Linked DNA regions of Homo sapiens: regions 1 and 3 are each linked to region 2. Evidence: fine-mapped expression QTL. A gene starts in region 2. Each other region holds a variant in brackets. All regions are shown on one strand. Distances are between the middles of the regions.

Region 1 (7,234 bases), 39 kb after region 2:
TTGCCAGGGGCCGCACCAGCTTTCCCGTCCCGGGCCAGCGCAGGCGCTCAGGCCTCGGAGGCGGGGCGATGGCCACCTCCCACCGAGTGGCGAAGCTGGTGGCCTCCAGTCTCCAGACCCCGGTAAATCCCATCACTGGAGCGCGGGTCGCCCAGTACGAACGCGAAGACCCCTTAAAGGCCCTGGCGGCAGCGGAGGCGATCTTGGAGGACGAAGAGGAGGAGAAAGTGGCTCAGCCCGCTGGGGCATCGGTAATACTGGGGCGGGACTTGGGCTGGGACCTCGCATGGGCTGGGTGCAGGCTGAGGGCTGTCCGGTTCCCCGCCCAGCTGAGGGCAGGCTGGTAAACGCGGGTCCCTGTGCACATAGTCCCTACTTGGTGGTCCTGGCCCAGCCCCTTCTCTACGCTCACGAAAATTACTCTAAATCGAGGCGTTGAAAAGTGTTTTAATTTTCACCAGTCTGTTGTAAAAGCTTCCTAGACAACATTTATGTTACTCTGCTTCTGGCAAGTGCAAAGTATAGAATTTTACTCTCTACTCTCCAGCATCTCGGGAATGGATATATAGAGATATATCTGGCTATATATAGTAATTTGAGGAAAACTGTTCTGTCAGGTGTGTTTCGTTATTACCTTAAGATCTTGGTTATAAGCGGATCTCAACATAGTGCTCTAAAGATGTGTGTTTAAAACCATCACGTGTTCACTGGCTAAATCAGACACGGATACAGATAAGCAAATCACTGAGGTTTCAGTGTTTCCTAAACAGCTCTTTAGGGTACAGCGAGACGGCCTTTTCACTGATCAGTTTTCATTGTTAAATCTGTTGTGGACACCAGTCCAGCAGGTAGAGGGCAGGGTCTGCCATCTGCTCAATTCACTTAAAAGATGGGAATCTTGGCCGGGCGCGGTGGCTCGTGCCTATAATCCCAGCACTTTGGGAGGCCGAGGTGGGCGGGTTACGAGGTCAGGAGTTCGAGACCAGCCTGACCAACATGGTGAAACCCCGTCTGTACTAAAAATACAAAATTTAGCCGGGCGTGGTGGTGCGCCCCTGTAATCCTAGTTACTCGGAAGGCTGAGGCAGGAGAATCGCTTGAACTTGGGAGGTGAGGGTTGCAGTGAGCTGAGATCTCAGACCCAGTCTCAAAAAAAAAAAAAAAAAAAAAAGATGGGAATCTTGAATTTAAACTAGCAATCTGCAGATAGAAAAAATTTCCTAATACCATGTGTCCAAAGCTTCTCAGACACCAAACTTATGATTGAGGACTAACTGAAATCACTGGATATTTTGGAATTCTGATCTCTTTAATCTACAGTAAAATTGTTAATGAGAACATCTTTAGCAACACCTTTTGTGACCAATCTTTCACCAACAGACAAACAACTTGAAGTTATCCAGAGTAAGGCAGACTGAGACCCTGAACATGAACCAGGATCAGAGTGCTAGGACCGATTTTGTTCATGATGAAGCTACCCCTCAACACAATTTTCAGTAGGCAACAAGGCAACGTGATGGAGAAAAAGGATTGAAGAGTTCTGTATTAGGATCCATTCCCTGCCACTTCCTAGGTGGTGTTAGGACATAATTTCCTTAAACCTCAGTTTCCTTATCTGTAAAATAACTATAATAATTGTCTCTTTTTTCCCATCTCAGCTCTATGAGAACCAAATGAAAGAATGTGTGTCTCCTCTAAAGAGCAATCTATGTAAATGAGTTGCCAGTGGGAGTGTCATTTGTGTGCCTTCCCAAAGATTAAACTCAACTTTGGCTTGCTGTGGTAAAGGAGTCAGTCACTTCTAAGTTGCAGATATGCTTCCACAGTGCCCTGTTAAACTGCAAATTTGTGTTAGAAACTGTTATTACCTTAGGAGGGATCAGTTTATACAATAATCTAGTTTGGAAAGGACAGGATCCTACAAAAAAAAAAAGGAAGCCAAGTCTTAAGAGTTTGGTACTGTTCTGAGACCACCAC[A/C]CATGAGGGATCCAAAAGTAAAGCTGGGTAAGCTGCCACAGTGGGCCTGATAGCCAGGGGGCACAGGCTGGGGGAAGAGGCATTAAGAAGGCAGGAAGAGTGCAGGAAATAGGCTCTGCTTTCTTCACTGGTTGGCTTGGGTCTCCATCTTGATTTTTAAAGGTTAATTTGCCTTAACCTTATTATCTATAAAATGTAGTAAAGTCAAATATTATACCTAACCCACAAGATTGATTTGAGAACCACCCATCACAATAGGCCTCTTTCAGCTCTTTGGTTTTGCCAAAGCCAGACCACTCATCCCACCCCACACTGCCCCCCAACCCCCCAACCCCTGCACCATCCCTATACACCCTCCCAGCTCTGGCATACACACGCACCCCCCTTGCAGTGCCCATATTGGGCACTGATGCCTGTTCCTTGAATCTAGCCTTAGTCAGAGATGTTGGTCCACATATCCTGTTATATGACTGATGATGACACAGGTAACGCAGTATTCTGTAATTCGCAATTAAAATCTCACTCCTCCCAGCACTTTGGGAGGCTGAGGCAGGTAGATCACTTGAGGTCAGGAGTTTGAGGCCAGCCTGGCCAACATGGCAAAACCCGGTCTCTACTAAAAATACAAAAAGTAGCCGGACGTGGTGGCACGCGCCTGTAATCCCAGCTACTAGGGGGCGCTGAGGCAGAATTGCCTGAACCCGGGAGGCGGAGGTTGCAGTGAGCTGAGATGCAAAAACTGCACTCCAGCCTGGGCAACAGAGTGAGACTATGTCTCAAAAAAATAAATAAATAAAAAGAAAAAATAAAATCTCACTCCTAATGGGGCAACCTTATCTTTTCAACAAATATTGAACATTTATTAAGTGCTAGTCATTAACTATTCAGTGTATATATAGCTCACATCCTCACAGAATTTTCAGTCTGGTGAGGGAAATCAGACAATTAAAAATGAACAGGGCCGGGCGCGGTGGCTCACATCTGTAATCCCATCACTTTGGGAGGCTGAGGTGGGTGGATCACCTGAGGTTGGGAGTTCAAGACCAGCGTGACCAACATAGAGAAACCCCATCTCTACTAAAAATACAAAATTAGCCGGGCGTGGTGGCACATGCCTGTAATCTCAGCTACTCAGGAGGCTGAGGCAGGAGGATCGCTTGAACCCGAGAGGTGGAGGTTGCAGTGAGCCGAGATCACGCCATTGTATTCCAGCCTGGACAACAAGAGCGAAACTCCATCTCAAAAAACAAAAAATGAACAGACACATAACTATAAGATGGGAAATGTTGGGAAAGAAATGAACAGCCTATAATGATTAAAAATAAATAGGAGAGAACCTATTGTTTTTCTTCTGACTCCACTTTTTATTTATTATTTTTTGAGACAGAGTTTCACTCTCTTGTCCAGGCTGGAATGCACTGGTGCAGTCACAGGTCACTGCAGTCTCAACCTCCCAGGATCAATCAATCTCCTCACCTCAGCCTCCCAAGTAGCTGGAACTAAAGGTGCATGCCACCACGCCCAGCTAATTTTTATATTTTTTGTAGAGACAGAGTTTCACCATGTTCCCCAGGCTGGTCTCGAACTCCTGGGCTCAAGTGATCCACCTGCCTTGGCCTCCCAAAAGTGCTGGGATTATAGGCGTGAGCCACTGTGCCTGGCTCCACTGTCGATATACATACATACATACACATATACACACATACACACGAACGCACACACACATATATTTTTTTGAGATGGAGTTTTACTCTTGTTGCCCAGGCTGGAGTGCAGTGGCGTGATCTTGGCTCACCACAACCTCCACCTCCCAGGTTCAAGCGATTCTCCTGCCTCAGCCTCCCAAGTAGCTGGGATTACAGGCGTGTGCCACCACGCCCGGCTAATTTTGTATTTTTAGTAGAGACGGGGTTTCTCCATGTTGGTCAGGCTGGTCTCCAACTCCTGACCTCAGGTGATCCGCCCGCCTCAGCCTCCCAAAGTACTGGGATTACAGGCATGAGCTACCATGCCTGGCCTATATTTTTAAATTCACCTGTTATTTTAGATACAGAGGTGCATGTGCAGGTTTGTTACATGGGTATATTGCATCCAGGTAGTGAGCATGGTACCCAATAGATAGTTTTTCAACCTACGCCGCCCTCCCTCCCTCCCTCCCTCCCCACCTGGTGGTAGCCCGCAGTGTCTGTGGTTTCCATGTTTATGTTCGTGTGTACTCATTATTTTACCTGCCACTTATGAGAACATGTGATATTTGGTTTTCTGTTAATTTGTTTAAGATTATGTCCTACAGCTCCATCCACGTGGCTGTGAAGGACATGATTTCATTCTCTTTTTTTTTTTTTTTTTGTGATGGAGTCTCGCTCTGTCACCAGGCTAGAGTACAGTGGCACAATCTCGGCTCAATGAGACCTGTGCCTCCTGGGTTCAAGTGATTCTCCTGCCTCAGCCTCCTGAGTAGCTAGGACTACAGGTGCACACCACCACACCTAGCTAATTTTTGTATTTTTAGTAGAGACGGGGTTTTACCATGTTGGCCAGGATGATCTTGAACTCCTGACCTCAAGTGATTCGCCAGCCTTGACCTCCCAAAGTGCTGTGATTACAGGCCTGAGCCACCATCCTGGCCTAATTTTTTTATTTTTATTTTTATTTTGTAAAATAAAGGTCTCACTATGTTGCCCAGGGTGGTCTCAAACTCCTGGGCTCAAGCAATTCGCCCTCCTCGGCCTCCCATAGTGCTCGGGTTAGAAGTATATGCCACCATACCAGGTGACATTCTTCTCTTAAAATATCAAATGTTACATATGACGCTTAGGCCCTTTTAACAACTCTCCCCCAGAAGAGAAAATATGAATACCTACTCCCTCCCTAATGGTAGCCACTGTTTCAAAATTGATATGTATTCTATTCTCTGGCCGTTTTTCTATCTCCTCCATATATTTTAATATACAGTACATACTATATAAATATATAAATAAATATATAAATATATATAAGTATATAAATATTTAAATATATATATAAATATATATATTTAAATATATATATAAATATATATATTTATATATATATAAATATATATAAATATATAAATATATATATAAATATATATAAATATATAAATATATATATAAATATATATAAATATATAAATATATATATATATAAATATATATATAAATATATATAAATATATATATATAAATATATATAAATATATAAATATATATATAAATATATATAAATATATATATAAATATATATATAAATATATATATAAATATATATATAAATATATATAGATATATATATATAAATATATATATAGACAGAGAGAGGGAGATAGTTCTGCAACTTGCTTTTTTTTCTTATTTATTGGGAGTTTACCCATGTTAGTACATGTAGATCTCTCTCATTCTTTACAAATTCAGCGAAAAAAATTTTTTCAAAAATTACAGGTTGCAGATGAAACTATATAGGCTGCAGCACAAATAATTCTTCATAGGTGCTGATTACTAATAAAGCAACAGGTACTGGAAGGATTCATTATCTAAATGGGTCAAGCCAATCTAGGGAAGATTATCCTCTAATCTGGTGGCTGCATTTACAACATTCCACAAAAAGCCGATTAAAGGGAGAGGATGCTATTTTAGGCTCTTGGAAAAATAATGTCTATGGCCTAGGTTATTTTGTATACTAAATATTTTCTCAGTGGAGACAATTAAAGATTAAATTAGAATTGGAGGTCATTTACTAGCCATTCATCTGTTTTAGGTTAAACACTGTGAGATCAGTTTATCTGAAAAGTTTCAGCTAGCGTTAACAGTATTAAGCTGAAAACAGAATGGATCCAGTGCAAAATCAGTACATAAGTATAATTTATCAGACCTGCCGCATCTTTCAGAAGCTACTCATTCTTCTATATGGTTTTCAAACGGTTCTTCCAGGTCCAAATAAATTTGATCCTTCTTGTGTAAATGACTGCTATAAGACATGATTTTTAAGAGATATTCTAAAAGAATGAATGAGAGCGCATAGATTCTTTTGCTTAAAAACAGTTCTTTGAAATACCCTCCCTGTTTTAATTATAGTTTTTGGAACATAGGCCTTTTTCTTAATACTTGGTGGAATATAGCTCTTTAGAGCAGCCAGCATTTCTTTGCATGGTTCATTCTTTTGGGAGGGAGTAACTGCCCTCTTCCCAAGGTGGAATTTTTTTTTTCTGTACATTCATTCATTCATTCAGTAAATATTCCTTGAACATCTGCCATTAGCCAGGTACTTTTCTAGACACTGGGGACACAACATTAAACAAAGCAGACAAATCCTTGCCTTTCTTTTTGTTTTGTTTTGTTTTTTTGAGACAGGGTCACACTGTTACCCAGGCTGGAGTGCAGTGCCTCCATCATAGCTCACTGCAGCCCCAACCTCCTGGGCTCAGGTGATCCTTCCGCCTCAGTCCCCCAACTAGCTGGGACTATAGGTGCATACTACCTCACCAAGCTAATTTTTTGTATTTTTTGTAGAGATGAGGCCTTGACGTGTTACCCAGGCTGGTCTGAAACTCCTGGGCTCAAGCAATCCACCTGCCCCAGCCTCCCAAAGTGCTGGGATTACAGGCCTGAGCCATCAGGCCTGGCAAATTCTTACCTTTGTAATGTTTACTTTTTGGTAGGGGCAGGCATATAATACACAATCAAGTACAGATATGTAGGACGTCAATGGTGATGAGTACTTCTGGGAAAAATAAGACAGACAAGGGGGCTGACAGTGAGTCCTGGGAGAAGTTGTAATTTTAAATAGGAGAGTCAGGGAAGACCTTATTGAGAAGACAACATTTACATAAAGACCTGAAGGAGTGAGCAAGTGGGTCATGTGGATATCTGGAGGAAAAGGCATCCTAGGGAGAGGGAACAGCAAGTGCAAAGGCCTTGAAGTAATTCTGTGGATTTTTGTTTCTTTTTTTTTGAGATGGAGCCTCACTCTGTCACCCAGGCTAGAGTGCAGTGGTGCGATCTTGGTTCACTGCAACCTCTGCCTCCTGGATTCAAGCGATTCTCCTGCCTCAGCCTCCCGAGTAGCTGGGATTATAGGCATGCACCACCACACCCGACTAAGTTTTGTTTTTAGTAGAGATGGGGTTTCACCATGTTGGCCAGATTGGTCTCGGATTCCTGACCTCAAGTGACCCAAAGTGCTGGGATTACAGGCATGAACCACTGTGCCTGGCCAATTCTGTTGATTTTTCGAGTGA
Region 2 (7,612 bases):
CTGACCTCAAGCTATCTGCCTGCCTCAGCCTCCCAAAGTGCTGGGATTACAGGCGTGAGCCAAGGCGCCCGGCCTGTAACTCTTGTTAGTACTACAATAATGAAAGTTTAGTTCATTCCTGTTTTTCGATAGAAAACCTGGCTGTTTACTCACACATCACAAAACTTCTAAGTTTGCCAGCACCCTCCTTTGGCTTTTCCTCTTCCCATTTTCATTTTTATTTGTTTTTCTTAAACTTTTAAATTTTTATTTTTTACTATTGCCAACAATCAACCTCTTCCCATTTTCAGACAAATATTTTAACTGGGAAGGTTAGAAAGTAACAAAAATGTTAACTAGAAACCTTTCTAGGAAAATTAGGAAAATCAAAATATACTTAATGAAACAAGGCCTCTGCTTCATGTTACTATTGCAAGCTAAACTTAAAAACATAGAATGAGGCCAGGCATGGTGGCTCACACCTGTAATCCCAGTACTTTGAAAGGCCAAGGTGGGCAGATCACCTGTGGTCGGGAGTTCGAAACCAGCCTGGCCAACATGGTGAAACCCCGTCTCTACTAAAAATACAAAATTAGCCGACCACGGTGGCGCATGCCTATAGTCCCAGCTACTCGGGAGGTTGAGGCAGGAGAATCACTTGAACCCGTGGAGCAGAGGTTGCAGTGAGCTGAGATTGCGCCACTGCACTCCAGGCTGGGCGACAGAGCGAGACTCCGTTTCAGGGGGGAAAAAAAAAGAACGATGCAAACAGTAAGGCTTAGGAAAACGGGGCTTAATGGTGGTCTCGATAATAAACTAATGCAGAGAAAAATACAAAATAACAACAAACACTGTCTTTGAATTGGAGTAAAACCTAAGAGAGATAAGATACATACAGCCCTCTCTTCTTTTCTTTTCTTTTTTTTTTTTTTGAGACAGAGTTTCCCTCTTGTTGCCCAGGCTGGAGTGAAATGGCACGATCTCGGCTCACCGCAACCTCCACCTCCCAGGTTCAAGCGATCCTCCTGCCTCAGCCTCCCCAGTAGCTGGGAATACAGGTGCATGCCACAACACCGGGCTAATTTTTTGTATTTTTAGTAGAGACAGGGTTTCACCGTGTTAGCCAGGATGGTCTCAATCCCCTGACCTCAGCTGATCCACCCTCCTCCGCCTCCCAAGGTGCTGGGATTACAGCATGAGCCACCGCACCTGGCCCCTCCTCTCTTCTTTTCTAACCTTAACCAGTTCCTGGCTCAGTCCTATTATTGAGGGTCTAGGACATCGTGGGCTATTCATTCTAAAGAGAACCTTCATTTGGATGGCTGACAAAGTATTATTGTTTTGTAAAACCTATTTCATAAATTATTAAGGAAATTGTATTGTTATTGCCAACATTCCCACATATGCCTTACGTCTGCTTGGATCTGACAGGAAAGTATTTTTGTTTGTTTGGTTTTGTTTTGTTTTGGAAAGTATTTTTTAAATATAGGAAAGCTGGCCGGGCATGGTGGCTCATGCCTTTTATCCCAGCACTTTGGGAGGCCAAGGCAGGCGGATCACCGGGTCAGGAGATCGAGACCATTCTGGCTAACACGGTGAAACCCCCTCTCTACTAAAAATACAAAAAACTAGCCGGGCTTGGTGGTGGGCGCCTGTAGTCCCAGCTACTCAGGAGGCTGAGACAGGAGAATGGCGTGAACCCGGGAGGCGGAGCTTGCAGTGAGCCGAGATTGTGCCACTGCACTCCAGCCTGGGTGACAGAGCGAGACTCCATCTCAAAAATAAATAAATAAATAAAAAATAAATATCAGAAAGTTTTAAAAACATTTTTACCCTTCATTAGCAACAGTGCTTTGCTTAAAGTACTCTACACAAGTGTTTATGTTTTTGTTTTGTTTTGAGATGGAGTCTCACTCTGTCGCCCAGGCTGGAGTGCAGTGGCATGATCTCGGCTCACTACAACCTCTGCCTCCCGAGTTCAAGTGATTCTCCTGCCTCAGCCTCCCGAACAGCTGGGATTACAGGCATCTGACACCACGCCTGGCTAATTTTTGTATTTTTAGTAGAGATGGGATTTCACCATCTTGGCCAGGCTGGTCTTGAACTCCTGTGATCCACCCACCTTGGCCTCCCAAAGTGCTGGGATTACAAGTGTGAGCCACCACGCCCGGCCATGTTTAGGTTTTAATATTTGTTGAAATCCCATTTTAATGGAGAAATAATGTACATTAACACTCTGATGAAAGCCGATGTTTAACATTTATTTACTGCCTAATCCCACGAACAAAAATAATTCCAATTTCACAGAAAAAGAAATGTTTGTAACTTGAAACATTTCAGATACTTAAAGCATGTCTCAAAACTTTAAGACTCTCCCAAGAAGCCAATAATGGCATCTTCCAAATTCTGCTCTGTCCTTTATGGCTGACAGATCGACTCCTTACACTGGTAGAACTAGTAGTTTAGTAAGCCCCTAGAGATCATCTAGTTCAACCCTCCTATTTTACAGATGAGGAAAATGAGACCCAAAGGATTTAAGTGGCCTTCCTTAGGTCACATAGCTAATAAGTAGCAGAGCTATTAATAAACTCAAATCCAGTATTTTACATCCCAAAATTAATGCATTTCCTCATCACCCACTTGTTTCCAACATATTACATCAGTTGTCTAAACAAATAACCATAGAATTTATGTGCTACTTGGGAGTATTCTGGTCCTCTGAAGAGAAGTCGGCCTCAGAGGTTTATGGATCTTCATTTCCTAGTGCTAATATCCTTCTTTTTTTTTTTTTTTTTTTTTTGAGACAAAGTCTTGCTCTATCACCCAGGCTGGAGTGCAGTGGCGCAATCTCGGCTCACTGCAACCTCCACTTCCTGGCTTCAAGGGATTCTCCTGCCTCAGCCTCCCGAGTAGCTGGGATTACACCCCCGGTTAATGTTTTGATTTTTAGTAGAGACGGGGTTTCGCCACGTTGGCTAGGCTGGTCTTAAACTCCTGACCTAAAGCGATCCACCCACCTCGGCCTCCCAAAGTGCTGGGATTACAGGCGTGAGCTACTGAGCCAGGCCCCTAGTGCTAATATGCTAAATGTGTGTTAAAGAACAACTTGGCGAGGTGGCTCTCGCCAAGCCTGCAATCCTAGCACTTTGGGAAGCCGAGGCGGGCCTATCACCTGAGCTCGGGAGTTCGAAACCACCCTGTCCAACATGGAGAAACCCCGTCTCTACTAAAAATACAAAATTAGCCGGGCATGGTGGTGCATGCCCGTAATCCCAGCTACTGGGGAGGCTGAGGCAGGAGAATCGCTTGAACCCGGGAGGCGGAGGTTGCGGTGAGCCGAGATGGTGCCACTGCTCCAGCCTGGGCAACAAGAGTGAAACTCCGTCTCAAAAACAAACAAAAACAAACAAACAAACAACACCACCACCACCTCATAATTACAAGATTAAGTACCTTTGAACATTTGTTTCTGAACCTACCACACGCAACTGTCACTTTGCAGGTGCTTAATAATTGTGAGCGAACATTCAACAAACCTCATTTCATAAACTTCCCTACTGAAATATAGTGGTCATAGGAGACCAGCAGTTTAGCTCATGGCTTCTGGTCCTTGCTTTGTATTGGAATACTGCTTCTATCTACTGACTCGTTTACCCTGGGCTTCAGTTCCTTCTTTGGGCTCCAGTTCTCTCACCTTTTAAGTAAAGGATTATTGTGAGGACTAAACGAGATATAAAACGTGTAAAGGTTTAGCACTGTGCTTAGCAGATAACGGAAATAAATGATCTTTATTATAATGTTTACGTTCCCTAAGAGTCAGTGGCTACGTCATGCAGGAGACACTAGTGTAGAACAAGCGGGCGGTGGTAACTAGACAGACCTGATTTGGCAGTCTGTCAAACCTCCACCACCCAGTATCAACCAATACGAGATAACTAACCTCGCCTCATTCCAAATCTCCCTTTTCTGACTCCCTTTCAAAATGAACAAAACTGCATAAAATGCAGGTCTATGTGGCCGGGCAAAAACAGACTCAGTCATATCCCTTAGAGAGTTATTCCGGCGCCCACCCCACCTCGCGGATAGATCCAGCCGGAGTTAAAGGAGGGCACCTCCGGGTGGGCGCGGTGGCTCACGCCTGTAATCCCAGTACTTTGAAACGCTGAGGAGGGTGGACCGCTTTGAGCCGGGGAGGTCAGACCAGCCTGGGCAACACAGCGAAACCCAGTCTCGCTATGTTTCGAATACAAAAATTCGCTAGGCATGGTGGCGGGCACCTGTCGTCCTGGCTAGTTGGGAGGCTGTGGCGGGAGGATCGCTTGGGCCCCGGAGGTCGAGGCTGCAGTGAGCCAAGATCGCCCCACTGCACTCCCGCCTGGACGACAGAGCGAGACTCTGTCAAAAAAAAAAAAAAAAAAAAAAAAGGCCGGGCTTCGTGGCTGACGCCTGTAATCCCAACACTTTGGGAGCCCGAGGCGGGTGGATCACCTGAGGTCGGGAGTTCGAGACCGGCCTGGCCAACATGGTGAAACCCTGTCTCTACTAAAAATACAAAAATTAGCTGGGCATGGTGGCGGACGCCTGTAATCCCAGCTACTCGGGAGGCTGAGGAGGATCGCTTGAACCTGGGAGGCGGAGGCTGCAGTGAGCCGAGATTTTGCGCCACTGCACTCCAGCCTGGGCAACAGAGTGAGACTGTATCCAAAAAAAGAAAAAAAAAAAAAAAAAAAGGAGGGGACCTCATAGCCGTGCAAGGTGGAGTGAGGAAATGCGGATGTCCTCACCACTCGCCTTTAAAATCGCGCGTTGTCATTGCTGCCTCGCGTAAAGGTTCCCCCGGCGCTCTTCACCCACAGCGCCCCGGGCGTACAATCTCGCCAGCCCGGAGCCCACCGCACGCATCCTCCTCGCCCGGCGCGCAGCGGACAGCCTCCTACGTCACGCCAGCGCCGCGCGGCAAGGAAGGCCCCCTTCTCCGCCTCCGCCTCCTCCCGACGCCGGCGCCGCTTTCTGGAAGGTTCGTGAAGGCAGTGAGGGCTTACCGTTATTACACTGCGGCCGGCCAGAATCCGGGTCCATCCGTCCTTCCCGAGCCAACCCAGACACAGCGGAGTTTGCCATGCCCGAGAATGTGGCACCCCGGAGCGGGGCGACTGCCGGGGCTGCCGGCGGCCGCGGGAAAGGCGCCTATCAGGACCGCGACAAGCCAGCCCAGATCCGCTTCAGCAACATTTCCGCCGCCAAAGGTATCACTCTCATGGCCTGACCCGCGGCGCCGCGGGGTTGTGCTCTGCGCTCTCATCGTGGGCTTGAGCGGGTTTGGCTCATTTCCCATTTCTTCGGGTGATCCTCTCTTGTCCTCCCTATAGAAGCAGCCCAGTGGAGGGATCCTTATTTCTGTTTTTCTGCCGATGATCGCCAACCCGGAGTATGGAGGCCTTTGGACTTGCCCCATTTTGCATCTTAATCTCCCTTAGTTTTTCATCCTGCACTGTGCATCATTCATATTGGAGCCGAAAGCAGTTCAAAATGCCGAGGATTGCATGCAGTCTTCACTAGGGATCTGACGCTTGAGGGCTGTCGCTTATTGCTTATTGGAACTGGTAGAATGCACAGTATCTTTCAGCTTTGTTATTCTTATTTAAAGAACTATTAAATAAACTTCACTTGGCACAACTGTTGAGACGAATTGGGTGAACTCTCCGAGTCTAAATTGGGGCGGGGCCCATTGTACTGGGATGGATGTGGGAACCGACTTACGTGTCGTGTTTGAAATAGTTGCGGAAAAGTTACGTTGATGTCGTCTCCGCATGTGCAGTGAAACATAGGCAAATCAAGAAACAATTATTTGTTTTTTTTGTGGAAGTGTGTGGCACACGTTGGAAATCAGGAAGACCAGAGTTTCATTCTCTGCTTCCGTTACTTCATGTCTTAGTGACCTGTAACCTCTGTGCCAAAGATTCACTTATAAAATTGGAGGAAAATGTTTGCTTTTTAGAGTTAAGATTAAGAGAAATCGAGTTGAAATAGAAAAATCTGGAAGGAAAAGTCAGGACAGAGGTTTAGAGATCTTGCCCGAGTGTATATTGAGTATAGTAGTTCTTTTGGGTTGGAGAATAGTAGTATGTTTACAGAAGAGGTGAGATTAGAAAGCTAGGTTGGGGCAGATGTTAAAGGCCTGGTGTCCTGGAAAGTATTTGGCTTAATCTCCCCCAGCTATGGGATCATTTCTTTTTAGCCATCGTGTAGGCTTGCTGTGAGGATTCAGTGAGAAAGCATATAAAGACCCACGTATATAAAGTACACCTTACATGTGTTTGCAGTCATCAGCCCAAGTAACTGGGAATGTGATGGCGCTAAGATAGGTAACGCTGGATGTAAGAAAAAGTAATAGTTTCTAACTTGTCCTAATGAGTTGGAAAGGTCAGAATGGCCAGATTTAGGAGTCATTTGTAAGTTTAGGAGATAATACACCTGGAAACGAAGGTTTGTAGGATAATTGTCTAGGGACCATAGTTGAAGCTTACATTTATTAGATTAGGAACAGAATGTTGAAAGATAAATTTTGGGTCGGGCAGGGTGGCTCACGTCTGTAATCCCAGCAATTTGGGAGGCTGAGGCTGGCGGATCACATGAGGTCAGGAGTTCAAGACCAGCCTGACCAACATGGAGAAACCCCGTCTCTACTAAAAATACAAAATTAGGTGGGTGTGTTGGCGTAGGCCTGTAGTCCCAGCTACTCGGGAGGCTGAGGCAGGGGAATAGCTTGAACCTGGGAGGCGGAGGTTGCCGTGAACTGACGTCGCGCCATTGCACTCCAGCCAGGGTGACGAGCGAAACTCCGTCTCAAAAAAAAAAAAAGATAAATTTGGGGGCCAAGAGAGTTTATAATATGGTTGATATTCAACAAACAAAATAAGTGGGAAATTTAGCAACCTTTGAAACAAAAGCAGACAAAGAACTGAAACAACAGAGGAGGGTGTGCATGTGGGAAGGAAAGGCCACCTAAGTTATCTGTGAAGATGACCCGTTATGTCTTAAACTCCTGGCCTCAAGTGACGGCCTGCCTTGGCTTCGCAAAGCGCTGGGATTACAGGCGTGAGCCACCGCACCCGGCCCCAGAGATGTTTTATAACATACTGATGATGACCAAAAGCTATGATTTGAGAGTTTTGGTTTTTGTTTGGTTTGTTAGGTTTGGTTTGTTTGTTGAGATGGAGTCTGTCTTGCTCTGTCCCCCAGGCTGGAGTGCAGTGGTGTGATCTCTGCTCATTGCAACTTCTGCCTCCTGGGTTCAAGCGGTTCTCCTGCCTCAGCCTCCCGAGTAGCTAGCTGGGACTACAGATGCGCACCGCCACACCCGGCTCATTTTTGTATTAGTAGAGGCAGGGTTTCGCCATGTTGTCCAGGCTGGTCTCGAACTCCTGACCTTAGGTGGTCTGCCCGCCTCAGCCTCTCAAAGTGCTGGTATTACAAGTGTGAGCCATCACGCCCAGCCTTGTTGGATTTTTTAGAAGAGTATCTTGCTCTGTAGCATTTCCATTGTGGTTTGCCCTTTTGGCGGTGTTGGCGGGCCACCTATCTACCATGTTCACATTAGTGAACAAAAGTCTTTGCTCTCAGAGATTACATA
Region 3 (7,612 bases), 210 kb after region 2:
GATGTTTATGGCTATAGTTTGAGATGAGCTTTGGTCACATTTTTCTGAGAAGCTTTGATTCCTTAGTAAAAATTATGAAAGCAAGCCTGTCCTGATTTAGCCAAAGTAACATCAGTTTCCTGAAGCAACAGGTAGCTGCCCACTTCATACCAGCATAACCTACTTTCAGACTAATTTCTAGACCAGTGGGTGGTATTAAGGCCCTGTTGCTGGCGATTTGGGGATTTAGGATATTTATGACTATTTCTGATACCACATTCCTGCTCAGAACGATGAGACTACCTCACAGCCTTGAATTTCATGTCTGATCAAACAGTGCATGTCACAGAACCTGTGTCCAGTACATCCAGAACCAATCTGGCCCAGCCCAGTTTAGGAGTGTCGATGATCCAGGCAGGTCAGCAGCATCTCTGTTTGGAAAGAGGAATTTGGCCTGCCCTGACTGTGTCATTCTCCTCTTCTAACCTTTAGCAGTCCATTACTGATGGGTAAAGTTCCCATTCGTCCATCCACAGGCTTGATGGTACCTACTGTACCTTTATTTGTTATAATTCAGTGGTGAAGCCATCTGGGCCCAGGATTTTCTTGGTGATTGGCTTTTTTTATTATTAATTAAATGTATTTACTTGTTATGACCTATTCAAATTGTTTATTTCTTCTTGAGTTAATTTTTGTTAGCTTGTATCTTTCTATGAATAAATTATCTAATTTGTTGGTACATAATTGTTTATAGGATTTCTCCTCATCATTTATTGCCCCACTAAATCAAGTGTTCCTAAATATGACCCCTGCTTTCCTGCCCTTTCACTTTTGTACCTGGAATCCCTTCAACTTAGTCTGTACTTATTGAAGTGTATTGAATACCTACTAGAACCAAAATATTCTTTGGAGTTCTCTAGGGAATATATGAACAAATAGATATAGTAAGGTCTTGGCTCTCAAAGAGCTTATTGTCTAGCATAGTGTCTTCTGAAGTGTGTTCTTCAGAAGTCCTGCAAAATACAACTCAAAAATAAGGTTCTATGATCAAAGACATGAGGGAACATGGTACCATATATCATTTCTTCTGTAGGTGGTTCATAATTCTCACGAGCATGTTTATTACTCTAAGAAGTTCTGCCATAGAGAAGCTCAGAGTTTCCCAAAAGAATGTGATCACCAAACCCGTTTGTTATATAGCATCTATTAACAATCTAAAGAACTTCTGTTCAATGGAAAATACTTCAGGAAACCATGGACTAGATAAAACACACAACCGAGTAGCTACAGTGCAAGTCAAATGTCCTGAGAGCTAGTCCTGTAGCCCTAATAGGTCCATTGCTCAATGTGCACCGAAAGTCAACACACCGAGACACAGTGTTGCAGCAGAGACAGGTGTTTACTTGTAGCGCTGTCTAACAAGGAAACAGGACAAAACCTCAAATCTATCTTCCTGAGGAGTCTGAGGCTAGGAATTTTAAGGGCTTTTGAGTGGGCTGAAGTGTGGAGATTGTTGATTGGCTGACAAGTGCAGGGAAAGTCATGGGAGAGAAAGATGAGGAAATGATATTCTAATGCCGATTTGTTTTTTCTGTGGGGGGGTCTTTAAACTGATTGGCATCAGCTGGTCTACTGGAATTCAGGATTCACTTACGCAATTCTTAAATAAAATCTTACGATTCTAACATCAGAGATCTTATCTAACTTCAGAAATCCTGTCTATAGGAACAGTGGGAATGCAAACAGTATCTAGTGTCATCCGTGTCTAGAGACTCACTTACAAGGAAGTCAGTCAAAGTGCAGGCTGATTAGTGCTTAATAATAACTATATTTCTGTCCAGAATTCTTGTTAACCCTGTGAGCATGGCTTCGGTCCTTGAAACATGAGTAGGAAGATGGGGGAAACAAATGAAGGAAAGGCAGAGAAGGAAACATAAATAAAGCATCCAGGGAATAGAAAGAAGAGCAGAAGAGGTGGAGACAAGAGTTAAAGAAGCTAAAGGAAAAGAGAGTGGGTCAACACAAAGAGACCAAGAAATGACTCTTGGATTTAATGATCTTGAAGTCAGCATCAACCTTCAGAATAAAAATTCCAGGAAAATGGTGGAAGTACATAAAAGGAAATAAGGAGTAAGTAGAACAGTATGTGAATTCCAAGAAAGCAGAGATTGTTGCCTCTTTTATTTGCTGGTGCTCCCCAAACCCTAGAACCATAACTAGTGTTAAAAGAAAAACCTTCAACACTTAAATTTAACAGAATTTAATTGAGCAAAGAACAATTCATGAATTGGGAAGCCCCCAAACCAGAACAGGTTCAGAGAGGGTTTGGTGCTACTGCTTGGACAAAGAAGTTTTATGGACAGAAAAAGAAAGGTCAGGTACAGATGAGGTGCAAAAACAGATTGGTTACAGCTTGGCATTTGCCCTATTTGAACCCAGTTTGAACAGCTGGCCACCTTTGATTAGCCAACACTTGGTGATTGGCACCAGAGTAGGTTATGTAATCACTTGATGGATTCTCCCTGCCCATCACACAGGCAAAACCAGTTCACTGAGGCCATGTATTGCAGTAGAGAAAGAGTTTAATTAATGCCAGGCCAGCCACATGGCAGATAGAGTTACTACTCAAATCAGTCTCCACAAAGGCTTGGAGATTAGGGTTTTTCAAGGATAGGTTGGTGGGCAAAGGACTAGGGAATGGGTGCTGCTGACTGGTTAGGAATGCAATCACAGGGTTGTGGAAAAGAGTCCTTGTGTGCCGAGTCCACCTCAGGGTAGGGGGCCACAGGACCAGCTGGGTCAACAGTCACAAGTCTGGGTGGGGTCAGTCAGTTGCCATAATGCAAAAGTCTGAAATACATCTCAAAAGACCAATCTTAGGTTCACAATAGTGATGTTATCTCTAGAAGCAACTGGGGAAGTCACACTCCAGCCTAAGCAACAGAGTAAGACCCTATCTCAAACATAAATAAGTAAATAAATATACTAAATTATTCCCATGGTTAGCTTGCCGTATGTCCAGGAATGAGCAGACATAGCCAGCCTGAGGATAGAAGCAAGATCAAGTCAGCCATGTCAGATTTCTCTGTCATAATCTTTGCAAAGACAGTTTCAGTTATGGTCTGTTTACACATCCAGTTAGATTACAGTTCACTATGTACAGAGAAACCTTTAATGTATGTAAATATGGCTGAGTGTGCCAGCTCATGCCTATAATCCCAGCATTTTGGGAGGCTGAGGTGGGTGGATCCCTTGAGCCCAGGAATGTGAGACCAGCCTGGGCAACATGGCAAAACCCCATCTCTACAAAAAATTAGCCAGGTGCAGTGGCATGCACCTGTGGTCCTAGCTACCTGGGAGGCCGAGGTGGGAGGATTACCTGAGCCTGGGAGGTCAAAACTGCAGTAAGCCATGTTGCCGCTACTGTACTCCAGCCTGGGTGACAGAGTGAGACCCTGTTTCAAAAAATAAATAAAATAAAATATGTAAAGAGACAGCTTTAGGCTAAACTTAATTTAACACTAGCACATCGAAAGCTCTCCATAAATATTCATAAATAAGTGGATGAATTAATGTATGATGAGTGGTGGTTTAAAAAAAGTGAGGTAGGGGCCAGGCACAGTGGCTCACGCCTGTAATCCCAGCATTTTGGGAGGCAGAGGCAGGCAGATCACGAGGTCAGCAGATCCAGACCATCCTGGCTAACACAGTGAAACACCATCTCTACTAAAAATACAAAAAATTAGCCAGGCATGGTGGCGGGCGCCTGTAGTCCCAGCTACTTGGGAGGCTGAGGCAGGAGAATGGCGTGAACCCAGGATGCGGAGCTTGCAGTGAGCCAAGATTGTGCCACTGCACTCCAGCCTGGGCCACAGAGCGAGACTCCATCTCAAAAAAAAAAAAAAAAAGTGAGGCAATGGAGGTAATAAAGAAAAGACTACAATAATAGTGTAGTTGAGGAAAGGGGCAACTTGAACACACTTCCAGGCAGAGGACTCCGGTGGAAAAGTATACATCAGAGATGCAAAATAAGGAAACTGATGGGACACTATCATAATTAAAGCAAGAGGAAATGAGAACAACATCACAAGCAGTAGGATAGGAGAAGGTAGGTCTCATTATGGGTTCCATATTTCCATTAACTATATCAAAATTCACTCAACTGGCCAGGTGCAGTGGCTCACGCCTGTAATCCCAACACTTTGGGAGGCCGAGGCAGGCGGATCACGAGGTCAGGAGATCAAGACCATCCTGGCTAACACGGTGAAACCTCATCTCTACTAAAAATACAAAAAATTAGCCAGGCATGGTGGCAGGCACCTGAGGTTCCAGCTACTCGGGAGGCTGAGGCAGGAGAATGGCTGAACCTGGGAGGTGGAGCTTGCAGTGAGCCAAGATCGTGCCACTGCACTCCAGCCTGGGTGACAGAGCAAGACTCCATCTCAAAAAAAAAAAAAAAAAAAAAA[C/AC]ACTCAACCACCCAAGCTAGTAGAAATAAAAATTATTGGAAGCCATTGTTTTGGACTAAGCTCCTGTACTAGGCCCCAACAGACAAGGCTAAAAAAAATGGAGTCACCCATGCTAAAGTTCTAAGTCATCAAACCCACACTAAGTTTTTATCTCACCTTCCTAGAAGGCAGGAGAAAGAGATAACAGCCAATTTCCTCGAACAGGCCAGTTTCAATCTTCAATCCACATGATAATGAAGTTCCCTCTGCTTTAATCCTTATACAAAAGAAATAGCCTGATGTAATCTGACATTAATAAGCTGTTTTTCTGTTGTTTTAGCCTCCTGTTCCCACCTTATAAGAAGAGTTGCTTTGAAATAACTAATATTCTGTGTTCTTTGCTTCTGCTCTCTTCCGCTTTCTTCAGCCTTTCTCTGTCTATAAAGCCAATCTCTTCTGCTCAGCTTATCATGCATGCTACTAAAACGCCAAGGGTTTGGTCTAGGTGCTGCTGCTTGGTGCACAGACAGCCAATCATTGAGGCATTGAGTATTGCCAGGGAAGAAGGCTTTGAATCAAGTCCTGCATCTGAGGAGATGGGAGATCAGTCTTCAATCCATCTCCCTGACCAACTAAAATCAGAGGTTTCTGTAGCAGGGAAGAAATGTAACTATATGCAAAACACAGGAATTAGGCAGAGGTAAGGAAAATAAGTTGGTCAACAGGAAGCAGGTTGTCATTTAGGCAATCATGATGGGTAAAAAGTCTTGAGTCTCTTTGTCCAGATGCAATGATCTGGTAACTTTCAGCTCCTTGGTACTATATGGGAGGCCTGATGGTTGGTTTCCTGAGAAAGGAACTCAGATAAGACAAATGTAACTTTCTCAAGTTTTAAGACTGTGAGTGTCAGTTTCTATGTTTATTCAAAAGAAATCATAAACATCAGTTTTATGGGACAATTAGGCCAGTTTCAATCCAAACACCTACTATATTTTATGGAATAAAATATTGCCTGATTCTAGAATCTCAAACAAAGCCAACTGAGATCTTTAAATTTGTAATTTTGTTCCTTGATGCTAGAAACCCCAGTCTTCTTTAACACATCTTTGACTTTCATCCTCTTGCCTGCTTAAATGGGCACCAAGCTTTCTCAATTCCACACCTCTCATGCTCCATAGCCATTCCCATTTTTTATCCCCATGGCACTACCCTAAGTAAGGCACTTGCCATTTCTTTCCTGAAAAAATTTAATGATTTTCTGACTATGGTATGATAGATTAAATTTAACTAAAGCTTCTTAAGTATTTTAAGTTTGGCCAAAAGCTTACACCATACAGTGAACTTAAACCTAACTAGATGTGTAAATAGACTGTAAACTACACTTGTAACAAAGAGCTGAGTCTCAACCAATCACAGAACCATACTTCAGCCAATCACAGGTGGCCAGCTGTTCAAACAGCGCTCAAGTAAGACAACCATCAGGGCTATAACCAATCCAGCTGTTTCTGTACCTCACTTCCATTTTCTGTGTCACATTCCTCTTTCTGTCCATAAATCCCGTCAGAACACGTGGCACCCCAGAAGTCTCTCTAAACCTATCATAGTTGGGGGTGGGATGTGCTGCCCAATTTGTGAATCATTTTTTGCTCAATTATACTCTATTAAATTGACTTTGCCTAAAGTTTTTCTTTCAACATTAAACCATGAATTCAATGGTTTTCTGTTCTCAGCCCTTTCTCTATACTGTCATCAGCACAGTGGTCTAAAACACAGACGTGATCATGCCATTTTTTTCTTCAAAAGCGCAGCAATAGATCATTCCTTGATTTATTGAGAGCTTCCTATGTGCTAGCTGCTGGGGATGCACTGGTGAGTTATGATAAAGGGAACATTTCAAACTAGGGGCAAAGAAATCAAATGGTCATCACAAAATGAAAAGATGCTCAATGTTATTTTTCTCCCATGAGATTGGCAAAGATTTTTCTTTTTTGAGACAGCCTTGCTCTGTCGCCCAGACTGGAGTGCAATGATGTGATCTCAGCTCATTGCAACCTCCATCTCCCAGATTCAAGCGATTCTCCTGCCTTAGCCTCCTGAGTAGTTGGGACTATGGGCGTGAGCCACCATGCCCAGCTAATTTTTGTATTTTTAGTATAGATGGGGTTTCACTATGTTGGTCAGGCTGGTCTTGAACACCTGACCTCAGGTGATCCACCCGCCTCGGCCTCCCAAAGTGCTGGGAGTACAGGCATGAGCCACTGCACCTGGCCAGCAAAGATTTAAAAGAATGAAAATATCCAATGTTGGCAAATATGTGGGAAAACAAGCAACCTCATCCACTATTGGTGAGGGTATTAATAGATACAAACTTTTTAGAGGGAAATGTAGCAATAATTATTAAAATTCCAAGGCCAGGCACAGTGGCTCACGCCTGTAATCCCAGCACTTTGGGAGGCTGAGGCAGGCAGATCACTTGAAGCCAGGAGTTAGAGACCAGCCTGGCCAACATGGCAAAACCCCATCTCTACAAAAAATACAAAAATTAGCTGGGTGTGGTGGTATGTGCCTGTAGGCCCAGCTACTTGGGAGGATGAGATGGGAGAATGGCTTGAGCCCAGGAGGTAGAGGTTGCAGTGAGCCAATATAGGGGCACTGCACTCCAGCCTCAATGACAGAACCAGGCTTTGACTCAAAAAATAAAATAAAATAAAATAAATTTTAGTAATACTCATTTGCCCTAACAATGGTTATCTCTGGAATTGTGGAATTCATTATATATATATATATATATATATACACACACACACGTGTATATATATATATATATATGTGTACACGTATATATATATATACATGTATATACATATATATTTATATATATATATATAATGTGTGTATATATATATATATATATATACACATTTTTTTTTGAGACAGTCTCACTCTGTCATCCAGGCAGGGGTGCAGTGGCGCAATCTCAGCTCACTGTAACCCCCGCCTCCCAGGCTCAAGCAATTCTTGTGCCTCAGCCTCCCAAGTAGCTGGGATTATAGGTGTGTGCCACCATGCCCGGCTAATTTTTGTATTTTTTGTAAGTTCAAGCAATTCTCCTGCCTCAGCCTCCCGAGTAGCTGGGTTTACAGGCGCCTGCCACCATGCCTGGCTAATTTTTGTATTTTTAGTAGAGA

Alleles and levels. Alleles are on the strand shown, and positions count from the first base shown. SD is a standard deviation of normalised expression in the study named. Not every link is listed here.
For the expression in fibroblasts of the gene that starts at base 4,950 in region 2, allele C in region 3 goes with a higher level than allele AC (large effect, 1.3 SD a copy in GENCORD).

What was found.
Region 1: its variant is fine-mapped to the expression of CCT4 in whole blood (INTERVAL, PIP above 0.99).
Region 3: its variant is fine-mapped to the expression of CCT4 in fibroblasts (GENCORD, PIP 0.95).

What each region holds. Positions count from the first base shown.
Region 1 is chr2:61,846,876-61,854,109 of GRCh38, reverse strand. FAM161A (FAM161 centrosomal protein A) reads left to right here and starts at 50. Exons shown (of 7, transcript NM_001201543.2): 1 at 50-251. The coding sequence starts at 69. RefSeq lists enhancers at 117-276, 437-566. The variant A/C (reference allele first, on the strand shown) is at 1,978.
Region 2 is chr2:61,885,994-61,893,605 of GRCh38, reverse strand. CCT4 (chaperonin containing TCP1 subunit 4) reads left to right here and starts at 4,950. Exons shown (of 14, transcript NM_006430.4): 1 at 4,950-5,225. The coding sequence starts at 5,099. It also overlaps a transcript of COMMD1 not described here. RefSeq lists enhancers at 3,681-4,240, 5,180-5,259, 4,801-5,360, 5,361-5,922.
Region 3 is chr2:61,673,026-61,680,637 of GRCh38, reverse strand. No RefSeq gene overlaps it. Among named protein-coding and RNA genes, the nearest start is that of XPO1, 140 kb to the right of the region's middle. The variant C/AC (reference allele first, on the strand shown) is at 4,446.